2 linked regions of the Homo sapiens genome follow. The protein of the gene in region 2 interacts with the protein of the main gene of each other region in a pairwise test. Each region holds a gene or a part of one and is shown on either strand. Other genes may lie near its edges.

Region 1 (3,808 bases), on a different chromosome or scaffold from region 2:
GCTAATTTTTTGTACTTTTAGTAGAGATGGGGTTTCACCATATTAGCCAGGCTGGTCTTGAACTCCCGACCTCAAGTGATCCACCTGCCTCGGCCTCCCAAAGTGCTGGGATTACAGGCATGAGCCACCACGCCTGGCCTTTTTTTAAAAAAAAAAAAAAAAAAGATAGGGTCTCACTCTGTCACCCAGGCCTGAGTGCAGTGGTGCGATCTTGACTCACTGCAACCTCTGTCTCCCAGGCTCAGGTGATTCTCCTACCTCAGCCTCCTGAGTAGCTGGGATTACAGGTGTGGGCCACCATGCCTGGCTAATTTTTCTTCTTTTTTCGTAGAGACAGGGTTTTGCCATGTTGCCCAGGCTGGTCTCGAACTCCTGAACTCAAGCAATCCACCCACCTTGGCCTCCCAAAGTAATTTTTTGTATTTTTTGCAGAGATGGGGTCTTGCTATGTTGCCCAGGCTGGTCTTGAACTCCTGGACTCACACGATCCACCTGCCTTGGCCTCCCAAAGTGCTGGGATTACAGGTGAGCCACCACGCCCAGCCCAGTGCCCCATGTTTGGGCCTTTCTTCTTTGTCCTGCCTGGGCTTGGGAGGAGGTCACCCAGGACAGAGGCCCCTTACTCCAGCCCTGCCCAGCCTGAGCTCACTGCTGCCTTTCCATGAAGGTGAGATGAACGGGCAGCAGGCCAGGTTTTGTACACAGATGAAAATGCAGGAATGAAGAGGGAGCTTTTGTAAGATGGGTTTGCAAAACTCTGCCACAACCTGTGCCCTCTGCTCTGAGGGGATGCTGGGCCGCCCGCTCTTGGGTCCCTAAGCCTTGACTGCCTGCTCAGGGCTGGTTGATGGGGCCACAGTCTGGGGGGCCCCTATCCTCTTCCCTTCCCATGCCGGGTGCGGCCCACACCTGCCCGTGACTCAGGAGAATTTCACGCCTGCCTGCCCGCTGGCCCTCTGAGTCAGGCCCTGGCCAGCTGGGAGGGGCAGCACCTGAGCAGTGGGTCAGCACCGTCCTCCAGGGAAGCTGCAGGGAGTGGGGTGGGGAGAAAGGCAGGTCCCAGAGTGGGCAGCTGAGGAAGATGGAGAAGTCTGGATAGCCTTGAGGTAAGGGCTGGCCCCACCCCAGACTCTAGACATGCTATCACTCCCTCTACCAAAAGGAACCAACAGGAACAGACAAGGGCCTCACCTACCTCTCCATCCCCCCTTGCCTGCTCAGGGTGCCCTCCCTCAGGCCCTTTGCCTTTGCCAGGGCAGTGTGACCTGGTAGCTAGGAGCACTAGCTTTAGGTTTAGATATGCCTGGCTTAAGACCGGGCTCCAGCACTCACCTGCTATGTGTCCTTAGGACAGTCTCCTCACTGGTTAAAGGGGGAGAGTGTCATGCCATGATGTGGGAGGGAGGATGGACTGGCAGGTGAGGCCCCAGCATAAATGCTCACCACCAGGGAAGCTGGTGGCCAGGGGCAGTGTCCACACGAGCCCCCGTCCATCCTTCCAGGTGGTGACACCTTCGCCAGTGATATGGATTGGCTGTGTCCCCAAGCAAATCTCATCTCGAATTGTAATCCCCACGTGTCGAGGGAAGGACCTGGTGGGAGGTGATTGAATCATGAAGGCGGTTTCCCCCATGCTGTTCTTGTGATAGTGAGGGAGATTTTTTTTTTTCGACGGAGTCAGGCTGGAGCGCAGTAGTGCAATCTTGCTCACTGCAGCCTCTGCCTCCTGGGTTCAAGTGATTCTCCTGCCTCAGCCTCCTGAGTAGCTGGGATTACAGGTGTGTCACCACGCCTGGCTAATATATATATACACACACACACACACACACACACATATATATATACACACACATATATATATATACACACACACACACACATATATATATATATATATATTTTTTTTTTTTTTTTTAGAGAGGGTCTCGCTCTGTCGCCTCCTGGACAGGCTGGAGTGCAGTGGCCTGATCTCGGCTCACTGCAAGGTCCGCCTCCCGGGTTTGATTTTTTTTTTTTTTTTTTGAGACAGAGTTTCGCTCTTGTTGCCCAGGTTGGAGTGCAATGGCACGATCTCAGCTCCCCACAACATCTGCCTCCCAGGTTCAAGCGATTCTCCTGCCTCAGCCTCCTGAGTAACTGGGATTACAGGCATGTGCCACCACGCCCGGCTAATTTTGTATTTTTAGTAGAGATGGGGTTTCTCCATGTTGGTCAGGCTGGTCTCGAACTTCCGACCTCAGGTGATCCACCCGCCTCGGCCTCCCGAAGTGCTGGGATTACAGGTGTGAGCCACCGTACCCAGCCTAATTTTTGTACTTTTAATAGAGATGGGGTTTTACAGTGTTGGCCAGGCTGGACTCCTCCTGACCTCAAGTGATCTGCACACCTTGGCCTCCCAAAGAGCAGGGATTACAGGTGTGAGCCACCACGCCTGGCCAATAGTGAGGAAGTTCTTACGAGATCTGATGGTTTAAAAGTGTGGTGCTTCCCCCTTCTCTCTCTCTCCTGCTGCCACATAAGAAGTGCCTTGCTTCCACTTCACCTTCCACAATGATTGTAAGTTTCCTGAGGCCTCCCCAGCCATGCAGAACTGTGAGTCAATTAAACCTCTTTTCTTTATAAATTACCCAGTCTCGGGTAGTTCTTTATAGCAATGTGAAAATGGACTAATACACCCAGCCCCTCCGCAGCTTCTGACCTTTGTCCTAGAGTAGGGGCCTGTCATTGTGAAGGGCACTGGTGCCCTTGCATCTGAGCTCCCAGCTTGACCACCCACTCAGTCACCTTCTTGATCTGAGCTGCAAGGCAGCCTGCTGGAAATCTCTTGGGAGACATGTTTCAGTGCTTTGCAAATGCCCATGGTAATGACACCACCACCCACCATTCTCTAAGGATCTTCTGTGTGTGGCTGTGTACTGGCACCATCTCCGATCCTTGCAAGCTCGGAACGTCAGTACAACCTTCACTTTCTGATGATGCCCAGAGAGAGGAAATGACTTGTTCAAGGTGACACACTGAACAGCTGGCTAGTGACAGAGCCAGGTCTTTGTGGCTGCAGAGACCAGGCCTTGTCCTCAGCCACCTGCCTTTCCTGAGGTTACCAACTCCAGTTCCCGGAGACAGAAAGGGGCTGGGTTTCCCCTCTGGCTTGTAACTGTCACAGCCCTTTCCCCCACTCGGGACGTCATCCTAGAGACTCTGTCTGTACCTTTTGTTGTGTTGTTCTTTGACCCCCAGGCAGGGTCACCCTCTGTCCATGGGATCAATGGCACCTAATTTTATCTGTTAAGCCGTCCTCAGCCAGAAAAGAAGGACTGGGCCTGTGCTGGACCAGGACGGAGATGACTCAGGCTCAGGTCTGCCCTCCAGGGGCTCACAGACAGAAAATGAATCATTACCAAGATGGGGGACCTGGCTCAAGAGGGAGTGTCGGGGCATCCCTGGTTAGGACACCCATGGGAGTCCAAGTGCGAACCAGGAAGGACCCAGGGGGCTCTAGCCAGCAGGGCCGGGTGCTCCCTGCCACCTCCTATCCCCATGCTGGTGTGGGGGCTGCTAGGCTTTGAACCTGTGGGAATGGTTGCAGCCACAAATGCCAGCCAGGACTGGGCAGAGGCTGGCACCCCAGCCTGGGGCTTCCCCCTGTCCTAGGAGCTCTCTCCACCTTGCCCTCCCCTGCTGCCCTGAATCCAGGGTTGGGTCACAGCCAGATGAGGGTCACTGAGGTCCCTCCAAATCCTCAGGCTGCTCTCAGCCCTTTGCTGTGTGCAGGAAGTCTGGGAGATGGGACTCCAGCCTCCTGGCTGCT
Region 2 (4,306 bases):
CATGAGATCGAGACCATCCTGGCTAACACGGTGAAACCCCGTCTCCAGTAAAAATACAAATAAAAATTAGCCAGGCATGGTGGCGTGTGCCTGTAGTCCCACCTACTCAGGAGGCTGAGGCAGGAGAATGGTGTGAACCCAGGAGGCAGAGATTGCAGTGAGCCAAGATTGCGCTACTGCACTCCAGCCTGGCCAATAGAGTAAGACTCTGTCTCAAAAAAAAAAAAAAAAAAAAAAGTGGAATCCTGGAAGTGGGGCCAGGAATCATCTTTAAACAAGCTTCCCAGGTGATCCTGACATTTGAGAACTGCTAGATTAGGGATCTCTGACCTGTCCGAGAAGTCAGAATAGCCCACAAGACAACGTGAATTTTACAGAATCTTTTCACACTGTGGTCCATTACCAACAGGGAAGAGTCAGAAGCCCAGGCCCTGAGAGCACAAGGGCATGGTTATAGATGAGTAAGGTGACCATGGACTAGTCAACTCTGTTCTCTCTCGGGTCCATCCTTGTTTGGGGTAAATGGTGAGGTCAGTGTGGGAAGGTCCTGCCCTGTGCAGAGCACAGCTCTCTGTAGGGGCTTTGCAGAGCTACTGGGTGGGAATGGACCTGCAGTGAGGGTGGGAGGCCTGGAGTTTTTGTCCTTGGAGGAAGGTGAGCCAGGCCTCTCCGAGGAGGGGAGAAAACCCTGGACACAACCTTCCAGGGCTCCAAACTATCTGTGAGCATCCTGGACTCTGTGGCTCTAACAACTTAAATAATTTTTATTACAAAAGGAAGAAAAGACCAAAACATCCCCAAAATTCTCCCATGGGCTTCCCCCTCCACTCCAATAAATAAGGTATGGGAGACTGACCGGCGGAGGGGGTGGGGATCATGGTTCAGCAGAAGGGGGAGCTTAGCCGGGGGGGTGGCAAGCACATCCAACCCACCTCCCCCAGTCCCCGGCACTACGGTCACATTGGCCAGAACACAGAACTCTGCCCACAGACAGCAACAGTCTCTGGATGTGTCTTGAGGAGTGTGGCCGGGGAGGAATGTCATACCTCAGAATGGCCGGGATGGCTGCCCCACCCCTGTGGCCTTCCCAGTTCTGGACAGCATCGGGTCCAGCCAGATCCATGCTGGCTCCCAGGGAATTTAGCAGCATCAACTGAGGCGCAAGCCCACCCAAAGGGGCCTAAGATGGATGGAATGGGCCCTCCCCAATGGGGGAGGCAGAGTATGAAAACTCGTAGTGAGAGCAGGCTGAGTTGGGAGTCGCCGTGCCAGCCTCAAGGTCTCTAGGAGAGAGGGGTCAACAACCATCCCCTCGCCAGCTCAGCTTGCAGCTCTATGACTACACCACGACGGGGGTGGGGGACGCTGGTGTTGCCCAGTCAAGTCTCAATGGTGTATCTTCATGGCAGAGGAGATGGCAGGAGCCAGTGTCCCCCAGCTCAGGTCCCTTCCAGGGCCAGCTCCCTCCTGGCTGAGAGGCTTCTGGACCCAGTACAGCAGTTCCAGGAGGGCAGCGGTGGAGTCCTTTCAGCTCCCTGCCCCGGACATGCCCAGTGGGTGGAAGCTGCCCTCTTCTAGCAGGAGACGCCCCAGGCGGTAGAGCAGCTGGGGGTACCAATGCACACCCTCCCCCGGAGTCCAGCTGCCCCATGCCAAGCTGTGAAAGAGTCTCAGGGGCCAGAAGGCCAACTGAGCCAGGTGGTGGTCAGCCACGGCCGCGAAGCAGGATGCCACCACATCCTCCACCACCAGTGTCCCATGCTTTGTGAGCGGGGCGTAGGCCCCGAGGGCCACGTGTGTAGAGACAGCTGCCACGCGGGCAGGCTGCAGGCCTGGCACCCCAGCCACCAGCACGTACTGGCCAGGCTGCACGTGGCTGGCAAATGTGGCCCGGAAGCGGGCTGCCGGCTCCGTGTGATTGTCAGCCGTAAAGAGCAGGTGAGCGGGTGTGAGTGCCAGGCGGCGTGGGGGGTCCTGAGTCTCGATGACCTGGAAGGCTCTCAGCCTGTGAGGCTCGCGGTCCAGGAAAATGAGCACATCGCTGAAGGTGGGGCTCCCATCCTCCCCCATGGCCAGCACACGGTCTCCCGGCCTCACGGCTGACAAGGCCACACGCGCCCCACTCTCCAGGCGTACCTGGGCTCCGGCAGGGAAGCAGCCGCCCGTCTTGGCTGCGGCCGAGTGCTCTGTGGGAGAAAGGGACATGAAGGTGTTACTGCTGTGCAGCTCAGCCTCCTGGTCACAACGACCCTCCCTTGGCCACCCCAGCCAGCCAGAGCTCCTCTTGCTCCCAGAGAGCCCCCGTCACCATATCCCAGCTCCTGCCCCCCACTTCCTATGCAGGCTTGAACCCATACTTCACTGCCCCCATCCCCTTACTCCAATGTGATCTTCTGTGACCCCCCTCCCCAGCCTAATACCTTGCCAAGGAGCATAGTGGGGCTCCAAGACCCAGTGGATGAGAAGGAAAGGGCTACCTCATGGAAGGGGGAGGTTGCTTAGCTCCTCCGAGGCCTAGATGTTCTGTTATTTCTCACCCCTTGCTCAGACACTTCCCAAAAATTGCCCTCTCAGGCTGACTCCCCAGGTTCTGTAACAGAGCTGGACCTTTGAATGTAGGGATGTGAGAGGAGCCCACCCAGTGGGGCAAAGGCAGACTCCTGGGCAGCCTCGGAGTGAATGTTTGGGTCAGGGGCAGGCCAGGGGCGAGGACACAGTCACCATCTTCAGTTCACATGCTGAGTCCCTGTGCAGGGACAGAACACTGCGGCATCAGCAGGTGAGCTGGAGAACAGTGTTTGGGGGTCAGGAGTAATGAATGGAAGTGGTTGTCGTGGGTCAATGTTTGCAGTGAAGGGTGGATGGGCCTTGCAGTAGACACAGTTGGCAGGGGAAGTATTGAGTGGAAGGTTCAGGGTGTGGTTGTGGGTCAGGGTAGGGTCAGGAATATCAAAATGTGGGCCTGGGCTCAGTGTGCGGGTCTATGAGAGTGCAACTATTACACGCTGCCAGTGTGAAAGGCTGAGCCGGCAGCCAGGTGGGGCTTGGCTGGGAGCCACACAGGAACCATTTGGAGCCTCCATGGCTGGGTTCAGTGTAGGTGACAGGGTGCTGACAAGACTTGAGGGAGGGGTGAGGCCCCAGTGCCTGCCAATTCTGATCAACAATGCGGCCAATCTGGGAAAATCCACTTTATTGAGTCCACTTTGTTTAGTCTGGCTCTCCTGGCTGGCTTTGCCCCAAAATGTCCAGCTTCAGGGCACAGGGGGAGAGGTTGGGGACGCCTGCGCCCCAGGGAGGGCTGACCTGCAGCTGGGTGGTGGGTTCTGAGCCTCTGGGCTCCTGGTCAGGCATGCAGGTGTCTGGGCATACCCCGGCTCCTGGCCCCACCACCCGCCTTGTTCTGTGCCAGGTGGGGTGGGGAGGCCTTGTCTGGCAGCCTGGCTTCCTCCATCTGTCCAGCTTGCTCTGTCTTGCACCTCCTGTGGCAGGCTCTGGACTGTGGGCCACCAGGTCAGCACCCAGCAGCCCTGGGACAGGGCCCTATCGCCCTAGGCTCCTACCATGACACTGCCAGGCATGGGATGAGCAGGCAGTCACGGTCAGGAGCAGCCTTGGAGAGCGCCGCTGATGTCCTCTTCCCCCGGATCCCTGCCTCCATCCCCGGGCGGGCTCTTCACCTTCTCGGCACTACTCCTCCTGCCCATGCCCTGCGGCCCCGGCCCCGGGCCCAGCCCCCCGGCGGCGGCTCACCGGACTTGACGGAGCAATGCACGTGGGCCTTTGACTCGTAATACACCCAGTCAAAGCCGGCCTCCACTGCCAAGCGCGCCAGCAGTCCATACTTATTGCGGTCGCGGTCTGATGTGGTGATGTCCACCGCGCGGCCCTCATAATGCAGGGACTCCTCTGAGTGGTGGCCGTCCTCGTCCCAGCCCTCGGTCACCCGCAGCTTCACACCGGGCCACTGGTTCATCACCGAGATAGCCAGCGAGTTCAGGCGGTCCTTGCAGCGCTGGGAGAGGAATGTGCGCGAAATCAACCAGAGCGAAATCAGCCGGAGGAGCCGGCCGAGGTGCAGGTGTAGGCGCAGCCTCGCCCAGAACTCTCCCGCCACACCCAAGGGAGCTGGAAGCCCGGGAGGGTGCTGTCCCTCTCCCTTAGGAACAGAGGGCCCTGAAGTGCTCCCTCCCTAGCATACAGCCGCCCCCGGGGATCTGGACCGCACGGCGGTATCACAAATCTGGAGGAGGCATGGAGGCAAGCGCCCTGGCGGCGCCTTCACTGGTAGGTGGAGGTCCCCTCT

What was found.
Region 1: the proteins of IHH (region 2) and RHOD interact in a two-hybrid assay, tested with the Homo sapiens proteins (one large-scale study listed by BioGRID and IntAct).

The regions. Positions count from the first base shown.
Region 1 is NC_000011.10:67,059,847-67,063,654, reverse strand, and holds part of RHOD (rho-related GTP-binding protein RhoD), read right to left. Parts: intron 1-3,808. UniProt on the Homo sapiens protein: Involved in endosome dynamics. May coordinate membrane transport with the function of the cytoskeleton. Involved in the internalization and trafficking of activated tyrosine kinase receptors such as PDGFRB.
Region 2 is NC_000002.12:219,053,680-219,057,985, forward strand, and holds the end of IHH (indian hedgehog protein preproprotein), read right to left. Parts: intron 4,016-4,306; coding exon 3,754-4,015; intron 2,187-3,753; coding exon 1,528-2,186; 3' UTR 745-1,527; downstream 1-744. UniProt on the Homo sapiens protein: Plays a role in embryonic morphogenesis; it is involved in the regulation of endochondral skeleton formation, and the development of retinal pigment epithelium (RPE), photoreceptors and periocular tissues.